2 separate regions of the Homo sapiens genome follow, and region 1 is linked to region 2. The links come from fine-mapping of genetic effects on gene expression. Tissue or cell type: whole blood. Region 2 holds a variant in brackets; the other region holds the start of a gene. All regions are shown on one strand. Distances are between the middles of the regions.

Evidence for each region. PIP is the estimated chance that this variant, and not a neighbour inherited with it, causes the effect.
Region 1: CDCP1 starts here. The variant in region 2 is fine-mapped to the expression of CDCP1 in whole blood (TOPMed, PIP above 0.99). The same link has a PIP of 0.9 or more in blood mononuclear cells.

The regions. Positions count from the first base shown.
Region 1 is chr3:45,141,582-45,148,345 of GRCh38, forward strand. It overlaps CDCP1 (CUB domain containing protein 1), which reads right to left and starts at 4,797. Exons shown (of 9, transcript NM_022842.5): 1 at 4,625-4,797. The coding sequence starts at 4,706.
Region 2 is chr3:45,092,526-45,100,734 of GRCh38, forward strand. It overlaps CDCP1 (CUB domain containing protein 1), which reads right to left. Exons shown (of 9, transcript NM_022842.5): 5 at 2,822-3,043; 6 at 752-1,132. Among named protein-coding and RNA genes, the nearest start is that of CDCP1, 50 kb to the right of the region's middle. The variant T/G (reference allele first, on the strand shown) is at 3,070.

The DNA of each region.
Region 1 (6,764 bases), 48 kb after region 2:
GAGTGGCTGGCACAGCAAATGTGTTGGCTATTACAAGCAGCAATAGTAGTTAATACTTTTAAAGACTGATGGACCAGATACAAACCCAAGGCTACAAAGGGGCGAGGGAAGGAGCCTGGATCTCCTTACCTGGTTGTCTAGAATGCGCCAGCTGCCCGGGAGATGAAAATTACAAGGTTGTGGGAAGTGGTTTGAAATAATTTGATTATGGCATAATTTTTATAATTTAGAATGATAATTAAGGGGTATAAACTTTTCTTTTTTTTTTGAGACAAAGTCTTGTTCTGTCACTTAGGCTGGAGTGCAGTGTCATGATCTAGGCTTACTCCAACCTCTGCCCCCCGGGTTCAAGCGATTCTCAAGCCTCAGCATCCTGCGTAGCTGGGATTACAGGTGTGTACCACCATGTTTGGCTAATTTTTGTATTTTTTAGTACAGACGGTGTTTTGCCATGTTGGCCGGGCTGGTCTTGAACTCCTAACCTCATGTGATCTGCCCCCCTCAGCATCCCAAAGTGTTGGGATTACAGGCGTGAGCCACTGCGCCTGGCTCGGTATAAACTTTTCTTAACCACCAAGGCAGAGAACCCTAGCCACTGGTCCCCCACATCAGTGGTCTTATCATCTCCCACTGTCCCACCCACCCTGACCTCAATCAGGGGTCTTTCTGACCAGCAGACTCCTCTCCCTACCCACTCCCCACCTCATCCTATCCCATCCAAACCCAGGTCAGCACCGCTAGGCAAAAACGCAGGTGAGGCTTGTGTTATAAGCCAAGGGACCCAGTTCTGTTTTCTTTTGGCAAAAAAGCACTGGTGAGCTATTAGTACCATCCAGCTGGGGTGGTGCTTCTAAGACTCTTGAGTCTGCCCAGCAACACTGTCCAGATTCTATTTGCCAAATTGGAGGGAGGAAAATGCTTCTTCCATAGATGCTGGTGAAACAACAGTGAGGAGAGCCTGGGAGAATGTGAGAAACAAGCACTAACACACTGATGGCTGGAAAGCACACCAGGACAGGCTCTCCACAGGTGACATGGAAAGACGCATCCAAAGCCCTAAGAACCTCTCTACTCTTCATCCCAGCAATTCTGCTTCCAGAACATGGAAATACGCAACTAAAGCCCTAAGAGCCTCTCTACTCTTCATCCCAGCAACTCTGCTTCCAGAACACGGAAATACGCGTGCAAAGACCTAAGAACCTCTCTACTCTTCATCCCAGCAACTCTGCTTCCAGAACGTGGAAATGCGCGTCCAAAGCCCTAAGAGCCTCTCTACTCTTCATCCCAGCAACTCTGCTTCCAGAACTGTAGCTGGACAAAATAGTTAAGAATGTTCAGAACATGGGCGCGGTGGCTCACGCCTGTAATCCCAGCACTTCAGGAGGCCGAGGCGGGCAGATCACCTGAGGTCAGGAGTTTGAGACGAGCCTGGCTAATATGGTGAAACCCCGTTTCTACTAAAAATACAAAAAATTAGCTGGGTGTGGTGGTGCACACCTGTAATCCCAGCTACTCAGGAGGCTGAGGTAGGAGAATAGCTTGAACCTGGGAGACGGAGGTTGCAGTGAGCCGAGATCGCGCCATTGCACTCCAGCTTGGGCAATAAGAGTGAAACTCTGTCTCAAAAATTTAAAAAAAGAGTGTGCAGAACAACACAGCTGAAGAACACATTCTTAGATACATCAAAATGGGATAATCCAGTTGATACCATTTTATAACCTTGGCAACATGAGGATAATGGTTCATCCTTTCATGTCATTTTCTAGTCTGTGCTATGTAATTTCAAGTGCCTTTTCACTGAATAGACCTATTAAAATTGATACAAGCAGCTGGCTATTGTTGGACGTGTTCTATTTTTAATAAGAAAAACTGGAAGCAACTTAAATGTCCAACAACTGGGGACTGGTTAAAGCCATACAATGGGATGATCCCATTTTTGGTTTGTGCACATGAGCGTGCATACATACACATTAAGAAGACTGCATCAAAGTGAATAAGGCAGTTTGCTTATAGATAATTTTTTTCCATTTTGGTTATATTTATTGCCACTTTTTCTACAATAACTATATGCTACTTAAAACATCTTAATTATTAACTTCCTTCCCCCATATTGATAGCCAGGGAGAACACCCAGAAGAGTGTGTGTGTGCACATGCAAGGCGTGCAACCATCATAGATGAAATGGCAGCATCTGAGGTGAGCCCTAGGGCTAACAGGTCTGACTCCAAGTCATGCAAATCTGTGGGGATGTGGGGGAGGAGATGGGGGAGACTCATCAGCGCTACCAGTTACACATTCCAGACAACAGCCAGTAGCTCCTCATTTGAATCGGAAACAGAATGAACACCCACACTCACCCAGGGAGTGTGAATATATCATTTGATCTGTCTGCTCACATTTTTGGCAAGAGACAATGGTGGCAAGATTGGGGTCACTGACCCAGACTCTGGTATCTGAGTGGTTCTTAGAAAGCAACCAAATGGAGGTTTTCAAAAGGCTATGATCCCAATGTAACCAGTGTTTCACTCTTGGAAATGGGGGAGTTGGTGGGGATACCAAAGTCACACAAACACACGACACCAAGACACAAACTTTCCTTTACTTTTCATCTCTGCAGTGACACCAAATTCATTTTTACTCTGCTGAGTCTTTCTTTGTTAAGAGACTTCATGGATTTATAAAACAAATCCACTGTGCCAGGGCTCTGGCTTTCTGTATCCTTTCAGGACAGTCTCCAGGAATTTCTCAAAGGCCTTTGCCACTTAGATCCTCAAGACTACAGGCAACTACTCCAACCACAAAAGCTCTCAGTTCAGCCTGATGTACCCTCAAAGGGCCAGTTCCTGAGACCATAGGGAGGAACTTAAGAAAGCGAAAGGGAAAGTTCCTAGGTTTCTACGTATTTATGTATTGAACCATGAGACAGGGCTCAGCCAGTCAAGGACTTCCTGGAAGGGACTCCATTGGAGTTACTGGACCAAAATGGCAGCCTTCCCAGATCACAGGGAGAAATGAGACCAGGAACAGAGGCTCTCATTATTAGCAATGCCTTGATTAACACCCTGTTCTGACTGGAAGAGTTCCCCACTGTTGTCACAGAAAGCCAAAAACATCTCAGATAATTCCCAGAGTTTCAATACTGTTCCAAGACTGGTAGGCACGCATTTTTCTCAGCACACATATACACATATTTTCACTTCCTTTTTATTCTTAAACTAATTCTTTTTCTTCAAAGGGAATCTTGGAAATTCAGTCCTAAGAAATTATAGTAAATATTCATCAGCCAGGCACAGTGGCTCACATCTGTAATCCCAGCACTTTGGGAGGCCCAGGTGGGAGGATCACTTGAGCTCAGGAGCTCGAGACCAGCCTGGGCAACACAGTGAAACCCTGTCTCTACTTTAATATATATAATTTATATATATATTTATAAATCCATGCCATGGTTTAAATGAAGTTTTAAATTTTCTATCTACTATGCAGCAATATGTCACCTGATGTTGGAGAATGAACCAGGAAGTATTCCTGGAGCTTATATTGATATTTTAGAAGCTCCTGTCTTGTATTTGTAAAGACGGCAGTCACCGGGACGCCCAAATTCAACCTCACTTGCGTCCTTTTATTCCTTTATCTAATTTACACCTGCCAAACACAAATCCACCCTAGATGCAGCAAGGGGAATCAAACCCACATGGCTTCCTGGAGAGCTCTATTTAAAAAACACAAAACCTGTACTAATCTCGCGAAACCTGTACTAGCCTCACATCAAGTTCTTACATGAAGAAACCAGGTTATTTACTACGTTCTAATACATCCAGGGCCCACAGGGCATTTCCTGGCTGGCACAGGTCACTGGGACGTGTTGGTCCCTTCCCCCAACCGAAACAACTCGAAATTCACACATATCCCCGGAACAACAGCCTCCTGCCCTCAAAGTCCACTGCCAAAAAGTGCGAGGGGCGCGGGAATGTCCAGTCTCTGCGGTGGCGCAGATGCCTGGCGGCTTTCTCTGGGACCCCCTAAAAGAAATCCGGGCGCTTTCATTTTTGCACCAACGCTCTTCAACTTTAGGAGAGGGGGAATGCAGCGTGCGGACGGGAAAAAGGGGATCTAGTGGGAAATGCGGACGTGAAAGCACTTTTTTTGCACCTTCTCTCTGGACCAGGCGAGGAGGTAGAGGGCGAGCCTGGAGAGGAAAGATCTCTTCCCACACCCTGCCTGGGTGCTTTCAAGAATCCCGGCAAAGACCCTGGGGCGCACGGCGCGCCACCTTGGACATGTCGCCTGGGATCGGCTACCGGGAGCTCCTTTTCCCGCCTTCTCGGCCAGCACCGGGCTCATCCTCCCGGACCGGGAGGCTCCCCGATCGGGGACACTCTCACGTGCCGAGGGCAAGGTTGACTCCAGGAGGGCAAGGCCCACGCGCCCGACGCGGCGCGCGCAGGAACCGAACAGTCCGGGGGTCCCGGAGCCACCCGCGCATTTTGACTACGCCGTCCCCGCCCTCTCTCCGCACCCTCCGCACCCTCCGCACCCTGCGTCCCTCGGCCGCATCTCCGCCGGGCGTCCGCTGGCTGGCTAGCTCACCACTCCACGCCATCCGCCTCCAAAGCCCGGCACTCACCTGCCCCGCGCGGCAGGCGCGCCGCACCCAGCAGCAGAACCCCTAGCAGTGCGATAGAGACCCCGCAGTTCAGGCCGGCCATGACTCCGGGACGCCTCGGCCTCGGTGGGGAAAACGACGGTGGGGAGCGGCGGCCCCAGGCGCCCAAGCCCGGCGCAGCTGCGCTCCGCCCTGGCTCACTCACCTGCGCGCGGGCGGACCGGCCCGAGCCCCGCCCTGCGCAGCAGGATCGCGAGCTGACCCGGTGCGTCCCTCCTCTCTCTCCTCCTCCTCTTCCTGCCTCAGCGACCGCCTCTCCCTCCCAGGGTGCAGGGCTCCCGGCACCGGGTTGCTGGGTCCCTACTACTCCCCATTGCGGCGTTGGAGCGGACTTGTCCCCACCTTTCCGGGCTTAGTCTTCCTTCCCAAGTCTGAGAATGATGAGGTCTTTTTCTCCAGAGTCGCGAAGGTCGCCCATAGAGGAAGCCAGTCTACCTTCCCTTTTCTGTCGAGGAGACAAAGGCCATTATGCGCCTCGTTTTGGAGAAGAATCCTATTTGTGGGCCACCCAAGCCCTGGATCCTCTGCTACTTGACTTGGGCCAGAGGTCTGTTGGACTTTAAAGCCGGTGGTGGTACAGCTAGTATTTGCAGGACGGTGAGCCTGCAGCCTACTCCACACACATCACCTGCAGTATTTCCAGACACGCAACGTGTCCAAGGTCCCCAGGGTAGCTAGTAAATTAGAGGCAGATGCACCACTTCGTTGAATTGTGAGTAGAGTAGTATGCATCCCTTCACTGAGCTGTGGATGGAGTAGTATGTGCCCTTCTCGAGTTGTATTATAAATGGAGTAGTGTGTGCAGTGTGAGCGTGAAGCATTCAGGTCAAACGTTGGGCTGGAAAATGAATGAAAAATGAATGGCGCTGGACTCCTTTTCCAAATCCTCCCAGCCGCAGGTGTGCCACCTGCCTGTCTTCAGAGGCCCTGTGGGTTCTCCTTCCACCCTGCCGGCCATACACCAAGTCCAGGCCACAGGCAGAGATTGCGGATGGTTCAGGAGTTCTTAGCTAGCAGACCTGGGTTCTGCCAGAATGACTCCCTGGGACTACTTGTGTTCATGGATAGCCAGAAGCTGGGCCAGAGTCACCCGGAGCAACCTGGGAGGCTTGGGACAGGAACCAAAGCATGTGCGACAGCATCAGTTTACAGTCCAGTCCCAACTTCTGCTTAATTCTTGCGGGCACTGAGCCTCTCCAGGCTGCCCCAATCCTCCTTGTGGACAGGGGTGGGAAATCATCTCCTAGGAGCGTCACCCCTTCCTTCTCGATGTCCTTAATCATGAGAATAGAGCTAGCTCTGCCCTCTGGGAGCCCACAGTCCATCGAGGGAGGCAGAACTTGGAACATGACCCTGCCCACACCCCCACCTCTGGGAGGGCCTGTATCGTGAGCTAAACGGGACCTTAGATGTAATCTTCTAGTCCACTTCTGTCCTTGTGCAGAAAAATGGGAAAACTGAGAACTAGAGGGAAGGGAGAGGATGAGAAACGAAGAGAGGCTCTTGGTTCTCCCCACTGAATCGAGGACAAATTCATCAAGAGAAAGAAATCTTGACAAAAATCTAAACAATCTTTAAAAATATTTATGCTGACCAGGAGGGTGAAAGGAGATTTGTCTTTTCTCCTGATTCTAAGCAGGCATATATATCCCAGCATCTTTTCCTAACATCCATGACACCATTGTTTCCCACATACAGTAATACCCACAACAGTACTAGAATGGCAGTGTATTGAATGCAAAATATCAGAAATATTGCTTGACAAGTTAAGCCTAAGGAACAAGTTATTTCCTTACTATTTCGTCTCTCCAAAGTTTGCTTAACTGTCTTTCTTGGGATAGTTGACACCAGCTTTCTGAAAATGGAATGAGAGTCACTAATTCCCAAATATGAAGCATTGGTGGTGGTTCCAGAAAGTAGCAGCAACGAGAAAGAAGAAAATAGGGAGGCACTTCAGCATCCTTTGCGTGACAACCCAACTACATAGTTGAAGTAAAGATGTCCTGACATACTGTCCTGGTCCTCCAAGTGGAGTGTGAACAAAGCATTGCCAAGAATGGACATGTTTTGTCTTTACAAACATGGCTGAATGGAAGGAGTA
Region 2 (8,209 bases):
TGGAGATATCAGGCAGCCTGGACCCACCTTAATCTTATGACCAAAGATTCTTCTCCCTCCCACTCACACCTCAGAGAATAAGAGTAGGAAATAAACATCAAAGGTCTTGGTCAATTTTAAAATGGCCTCTAACTTAATGTTCTTGGAGCAACTTGTAATGGTGACTGTGACTTTTAAAGTCAACCATGTAGAAGTCACGTTGTGAGCCATTTAGACCTCATTTACTGCCTCAGAACATGGAGACCACATGCCAGCCTCCCAGGAGGGTCGGGTCTGCCCAGCCGTGCTGCTGGACTCTGGCTCCAGAGACTCGTCTCCCTCCCAACGCTCCTCCCTCTGTGCTCTCGGCACTGCATTCTGAATTGTAAAAGCAGAGTCATAAAAATGTCTGCCTAAGGATTTTTATGTCACTACCTTAAAAATCCGGGACTGGGGAATATCTGGCTATTTCTCATTTACGTCCTGCCTGCTTCCAAAAAAGACTCAAACCTGATAATGTTTTTGCTGCCTACCAACCATCGCCTCTCACTGTCAGAAACATTTTTTATTTCTAATCTCAGGAATTTTCCATGCTAGGTTAATGGTAAAGTCAGGATTAGGACTCACTATCTTTCAAATTTCTTGTGCAAGGACCAGCATATTGAGCTATCCCTTCTTTCCAAACTGGCAACTTAATTAAGGTGATCACAAAACTAAAATCAAATAAACGCTTAAACTAAAGGGGCATGGAGATAGGGGAGACCCCCCTTACCTTTGAAATAAGGTATAAAGGACACCGTCAGACCCTGCCTGGAGGCCTCTTGTTGGAAGCTGGGGGCAAAGGTGCGAAGGGTCACCGAGATGTTCTGCTTCACCTGGATCTGCTTGATAGAGCCTCCCGGGCAGAAGGAGCCGAAGTACAGGTCCTGGCTGGGTATGGCACTGGCCACGAGGTAGCTGAAGCTGGTGTTGCAGGGCTTCTCGTGTGTATGCTGCTGCAGCTTCTGGGCTGGCACCAGCACCAGGCTGAGCCTGTCCTTGGGCACCAGCAGCTTCCAGGAGAAGTCATGCAGCTCCACAGGCAGGTGGAGGATGTCACTGGGCACCTGGAGTGAGTAGGATTTCCTTTGGCAGTACCGGTGGTCTGTGCAGCCTGGAAGAAGTGGGGCATGCTAGCCATGCACAAAGGAGACCAGAAGTGCACCCTCCCCAGCTCTCCCGTCAGCCTGAGGTTGGGTGTCTGCATGCTGCCCTGTGTTTCCCTTCGGTCTCTCTTCTCCCACCCTGCCCTCTGCTTCTGGCTCCTCTGTGTTCCTTTTCTAGCGGTCCCTCTGCTCTCTTAGTAAACATTCTTACTGTTTACTAAGCTGGCAAACAAACTTCTGGGTAGTACTCAGGGTTGAAATTTCCTCTCCTTTTTTGCTTAAGTTTTTCTTCTGTGTATCTGTGTCTTAGATGCTAAGTGTCATGGGGCAGGGCACAGGTTTCACTCCACCCAGACGTGTTGCTCAGGAGGCAGTTCTGGGCAGTGGTTGGAGCTGTGAGTGGCGTTGGGGAGATGTTAGTTCGTCTTCTGGCTCTGCCACTTCCTAATAGGGTGTTCTTGGGCAGGCTACTTTGCCTCTTGTGGCCTTAGTTCCTGCATTTGAACTAAGAGCACACATCAGAAGTCATGGTAGCCCAGCAAGGAGGTGGCTGTTGGTTTACTGGCCTTCAGTCATCAAACATTTTTTTTTTTTGAGACCGAGTCTCACTCTATTGCCCAGGCTGGAGTGAAGTGGTGCGATCTCGGCTCACTGCAACCTCCACCTCCCGGGTTCAGGCGACTCTCCTGCCTCAGCCTCCCGAGTAGCTAGGATTACAGGCACCCAACACCATGCCCGGCTAATTTTTTGTATTTTTAGTAGAGATGGGGTTTCGCCATGTTGGGCAGACATGTTGGCAGACCAGCCTGCCCAACCTCAAGTTATCTGCCTGATAACCTGACCTCAAGTTATCTGCCTGCCTCGGCCTCCCAAAGTGCTGGGATTACAGGCATGAGCCACTGTGCCTGGCCAATCAAACATTTTTCAAGTGACTAGTGCATGTCCAGCACCGGTAGGGGCTAACTGGATGAAAAATAGAACGAGTCAAAGTTCTTGACCTCAGGAATCACAGTCTTGTGTGAGAGAAGACAAGAGGGCAGTGAGTGTGGAAGTGGGGGTGTGGGGTGTGGGGGGATGGGGATGGGAGAGGCTGGGGAAGTCTGAGCAAGAGAGGAGAGGATCTCACAAGAGGAAGATTGGAAGGCTGGGCAGAGAGACATAAGCCTGAACATGGGGCAGTATGACACAGTTCTGAGGGCTGCAGGCTCTACCTGAGGCTGGTCCAAAGGGACGTGTTGACACCCACTCTGCTTGCCTCCTGGTCACCCTTGCTCACCTGCACTGTGGGTGGGGTTTTTTTTTTTTTTTTGAGTCTTACTCTGTTGCCCAGGCTAGAGTGCGTGGTGCAATCTCGGCTCACTGCAACCTCCGCCTCCCAGGTTCAGGCCATTCTCCTGCTTCAGCCTTCTGAGCAGCTGAGATTATAGGCGCCTGCCACCATGCCCAGCTAATTTTTGTATTTTTAGTAAAGATGGGGTTTTACCACGTTGGCCAGGCTGGTCTTGAACTCCTGACCTCAAGTGATCCACCAGCCTTGGCCTCCCAAAGTGCTGGGATTACAGGCGTGAGCCATCGTGCCCGGCCAGATGGGCCTTTTTGATATGATTTACAACCTACCCAGGGAACCCCACTAAGGCAAGGCGGGGAGAGAAGAGCTATCCATGGCCAGGGACAAATGCACTGATTCAGGGGCGTACTTATGGTTTTTTCCACATTCATCCACAGACGTGTCAGATCATCACAAAGGAAGGAGATTTTGTGTTTGGAGCCAGATGTCAGGGTGAGGTTGCTACTGCAGGTCCGAGATTCTAGACACACGAAACAGCCAGGGACAAACTTGCGGCTCTGTTTGACGGGCCGTGGCTCGATGGTGAGTGACATGGCTCGCTCATTACTCAAGTCAACCACGTAGATTTTATCTGAAACCACAAACAGAAAACAGGCA[T/G]GAAGCATGGATCAGCAGCAACACGGGAAATGGCAAAAATTGGTAGAAAACCTCTCCTGAGGAAGAAAATGGCATATCAGACCATGGATGGATAATGTTGGGAAAACGTATTATTAAGGCAACATTACAATAACTATAAAAGACAGTTAAAAAGAAAAATAATGGACTTCACTACAATAAAAACAAAGAGAAAATCATTAAAAATGTGGCATAAACACAAATTATAAAAGTGAAAAAAAGATTAAAATATCTGTCTGATGATAGGTGCTACAAATAAGGTTAAAGGACAAGGGACACGTCGGGAGAAAGTGTTTGCAATATAGAATGATTGAGCAGCTCACAGGAAAGGAGATATAAATGACTAAATATTTAAAATATAGAAAGTTCTTAATGTCACTTGTAATCAGAAAATGCAAGTTAAAACAAAGTGTTACTGTATCCCACTCCTCAGATGGGGGGAAATGTAGATGTCTGGCAATACTGAAAGCTGGAGAGGCTACAGGAAACAGGCCCTTTGGCACACGGCCAGTGGGAGCCTGGAACACCCTGTTACAGAAACATGGGAATTAGTAAAAGAATGAACTCTTGTCTCTTCTGGGAACCAAACAGTGTGACATGGCCATGAGTGCCCACGTTTAACTGCAGCACTGTGATTGTGGGAAACTAGAGACCACCTTATACTGGAATAGATAAACTATGGGGACATTCACCAATGGAATATTACGGAGCTGTTAAAAAGAATGAGGGAGGCTGGGCACAGTGGCTCACGCTTGTAATCCTAGCACTTTGGGAGGCCGAGGCGGGCAGATCACCTGAGGTCAGGAGTTCAAGACCAGCCTGGGTAACATGTTGAAACCCCGTGTCTACTAAAAATACAAAAATTAGCTGGGTGTGGTGGTACATGCCTGTAATCCCAGCTACTTGGGAGGCTGAGACAGGAGAATCGCTTGAACCCGGGAGGCGGAGGTTGTTGAGAGCTGGGATTGTACCACTGCACCCTAGCCTAGTGACAGAGCAAGACTCCGTCTCAAAAAAAAAAAAAAAAAAAAAAAAGAGGGAGATTTGAAAACCTAAATATAAATATTGAGCAGAACAGCAAGTTGTAGATAATATGTAGAGTATGATACAATGCAGATGGTAAAATCTCTCCGTGAAACAAAATAGCTATTTATATATACAGACTTATGTATGCAGATGAAGAGAAAAAAGATCTGGAGAGAAATATGACAAATCCGTGACTGTGGTTACCCCAGAGGAGGGGCCTGGGAGTAAAGACAGACTGAGTGGTCAAGGAGGATTTTAGCTTTGCCTATAATATTTAAATTTCTAACAAGAACATAGTTACCTATTTCTTGCATCATTTGGAAAACTGCTGGATTATTGGTCATTTAGGTGATTTCTATAATTTTGCCATTAGAAATAAATGAACAGTGCCAGGCATGGTGGCTCACACCTGTAATCCCAGCACTTTCAGAGGCTGAGGCGGGTGGATCACTTGAGGTCAGGAGTTGCAGACCAGTCTGGCCAACATGGTGAAACCTCATCAATACTAAAATACAAAAATTAGCTGGGCATGGTGGTGGGCGCCTGTAATCCCAGCTACTCGGGAAGCTGAGGCACGAGAATCGGTTGAACCCAGGAGGTGGAGGTTGCAGTGAGCCGAGATCCCGCTATTTCACTCCAGCCTAGGCAATAGAGCAAGACTCTGTCTCCAAAAAAAAAAGAAAGAAAGAAAGAAAAGAAAAGAAAAAAAGAATAGGGATACCTTTTCAACTCTTTAGAATAGATTACCAGATTGGTTTATAAAAGACTCATTTCACTTTTTAATGTTATCCCTAGAAAGCTCTACACCACAGATGCCTGGGGATCAACTTGTACTGAGTTGCTTTTGAATTTCATTCATTCTTTTGTTTAAAAAAAAAAAAAAAAAAGCCCATCAGATTAGGAAGGCGCCTGTGCAAAGTGGTGCTAACTTTGCAATTCAAGGGTGTTGACAATATCACCCATCAGCGCCGGCGAATGAGTTCAATTCTAACTGGGAAAGCTCTATTTCCAAAAAGGCCTGCTAAACTTCCTTCTTCCTCATAACAGGAACCATATAATTGATGGACTCTCTCCTCTTGAACTGGCTGCAGGGAAGCTCGGTGTCAAATTAGTAGCACAATTAGGAAAATGTTTTATGGCTGTCATATCTGTTAATTGCCTGCTGTAGTTCTTGCTGTCTATTTTCCACGTAAATTTTGACATCACATCCAATAGTGCTTTAATTAGAGAGATGCCATGTCTAGAGCTGAAGTATATATTCTAATGCTGCTAACTTAAATATAATTTGATTTGGAAAATAGTCAGCTTTTCAATCACCTGGCCCCACATCCAGCTCATTTCTTACTGTCTTTCAAAACTCACCTTCATTGTTACCTGCAGGACACCTCCCCACCCCAAAGCCGTGTTAGAAGCCCCTCTGCTTCTGCAGTCCCTGCTTACCTTTACCAAGGCCCCGCCACACACTGCAGTGGTCTCCCCACCCGCTCTTCCCTCATTTCCATCTTACCAAAGCCATGCATGCACATACTTTAAAGCAGAGATTCTCAGCCTTTATTATTATTATTATTATTATTTTGGGGGACAAAGTCCCACCCTGTCACCCAGGCTGGACTGCGGTGGCGTGATCATAGCTCACTGCAGCCTCAACCTCCCAGGTTCAAGCGATTCTCCTGCTTTAGCCTCCTGAGTATCTGTGAAACAAAACAGCTATTTATATGTACAGATTTATGTATGCAGATGAAGAGAAAAAAGATATGGAGAGAAATATAACAAATCCGTGACTGTGGTTACCCCAGGGGAGGAGCCTGGGATAACCGCAGTAAAACATGCTCTGTTCCATTGCTCAATAACACACTCCGTTCCATTGCTGCCTATGGATCTTTCAGTTTCAGGCACTGTCTATTGGCTTCCCACTCAGGAAGATGTGGATTTCTCCTCCTTCACCCCACACCCCCTCCACACCCCACACCCCCACAACACAGCACAGACTAGCGAACACTCACACCACACACACTTCCCATTCCCATTCTCCCATCTTCCTGATAGTTAGCGTCATATTTTCAGCTAGATCTTCATTCTATGTTTGTGTAATCGTGACTATGTAATAATATTAACAGTGTTTAGGTAGCTACACTATATTGCATGCTATAATGATTTTTCCTTTCTGCATAAAATTTTGTGTTCCCTGTAGTGAATTATTATCATTTTAATCATTTCCTTAGTTTCTATGTACTTATCAATAATTTGATACCCAAACTCTCTTCCACTTGTATAAATCTCCTTTCAATAAATTTGAAAACATTAGGTACTTCCTCAACTTCTTAAGAAATCTCTCCAGAGCCTTTTCAATGCTCTAATCTAAAGGGGCTGCTCTTGATGCCTGGTGCTCAGGTGTGATCCTGGATCTCCTTCACTGTTATCATGGGATTCCCTTTGCTTCTCTCTTGGACTAGATCCTGGGCTTCCTGGATCCATCTTTTCTTTTCTTTTTTTTTTTTTTAATTTTTACTTTCTTTTTAGGTGGATTACAGCCTTCAGGTGCTTCTTGAGAAAGTATATATGGGGGTAAATTTTTTTAGATCTTGTAGGTCTAAAAATGTCTTTATTCCACCTTCACACTTAATTGTTTGGCTTGGTATAAAATTCTAGGTTGGAAATAATATTCCTTCAGAACTTTGAAGATCTTACTCCATTGTTTTATAATACCCAGTGTTGCTGATAAAGTTTGTTGCCATTTGGTTTCTTCTTCCTCCGTATAAAACTTTTTTACCTCTTCTCTAGAAGCTTGTAGGGTCTCTGTGTCCCTGATATTCTGAAATGTTACAATACTGTGCCTTGGTGTGGGTCTATTTATATCCATTGTGTGTGGTGGCCCCTTCCAGTTGGCAACTCATATCCATCAGTCCTGGCAAATGTTCCTGAAATATTTTGTGATGATTCCCTTCCCTCTATTTTTTCTCTGTAAAACTCCATCTATCCGGATATTGGGCCTCCTTGACTGGTCCTTGAGTTTTATATTTTCTCTTTCTTTCTATCGCGCTGGCTTTTTCTTCACTCCACTTTCTGGGAGATATCCTCAACTTTATCTTTCAGCCCTTTTGACTCTTTCATTTCTGCTAACATATTTTTAATCTCCAAGAGTTCCTTTGAACTCTTGGAGATTAAAAACGAGCTTTCTCCTGAAAGCCCTTTTTAAAAATTACAACCGGTTCCTTTTACATAAACGCAGCATCTCTTCTTATTAACTTGAGAGTCTTGATAGCTGATTTTTAGTTTTTTCTCCCTCTATAGTCTCTGTTTCCTGCAAGTGGCTTTTCTTCTATTCATTTGTTTTAGTCTTTGTATTTTTCATTAGGCTTCACCAGATGTCTGGGGATCTATATACTGCTCTTATTTAAAGTGAGGCACTAATGCTATTTGGAATAGCTCTGCTTGTTGACTGGGCTTCTCAGTAGGGTGATATGGCCAGATTGCTTCCTGGGGAGCCCATAACATCAATATCTTTGGGTCTTTTCTCTTAGATTGGTCAGATGCCCCCAGAGAAGAAGTCATTCTCTACCGAAGGGAAGAAACATACCCATGGGCACCAGGGAAGGAAGGATGGAGCCTCATGCTCAGTACTTCAGTTTTACTCAATCCCCCGTGTTCAGCTTAGTACCTCCACCTTCAGTGTGACTGGGATCTTTGGTTCAGGGACTCTCATCTCAGGAAAAGAAACTTCTCTCTTCTGTCAGCTCAGGGAAGAACAGTTGTTTGGCTGCTTGTTGGCAAGGAGACCATCTGGGGCTCTAGTGGCTCTTCCCACCTTAGCCCCACATTTGCCCCCAGTTCTGGAGGAGACTTGCTGCCAATTCTTGAGGCTTTGCAGGATAAAGCAGATTTCTTCTTGGTTTTTCCCACTGTTGGCTTAGGATTCTGCCCTTTCACATCTGCTGGATCAGTTACCACCTTTCTACTCTATGAAATGTTATACGATATTTTTTCCTTTCTATTTCTCTTTCTTCCTTGAATTTTATGTCTTTAAAAATACAAAAAAATTGTACCTTAAAAATGTTTTAAAATGCTTTAAAAATGTTCTAAGAAAACCCATTATAGT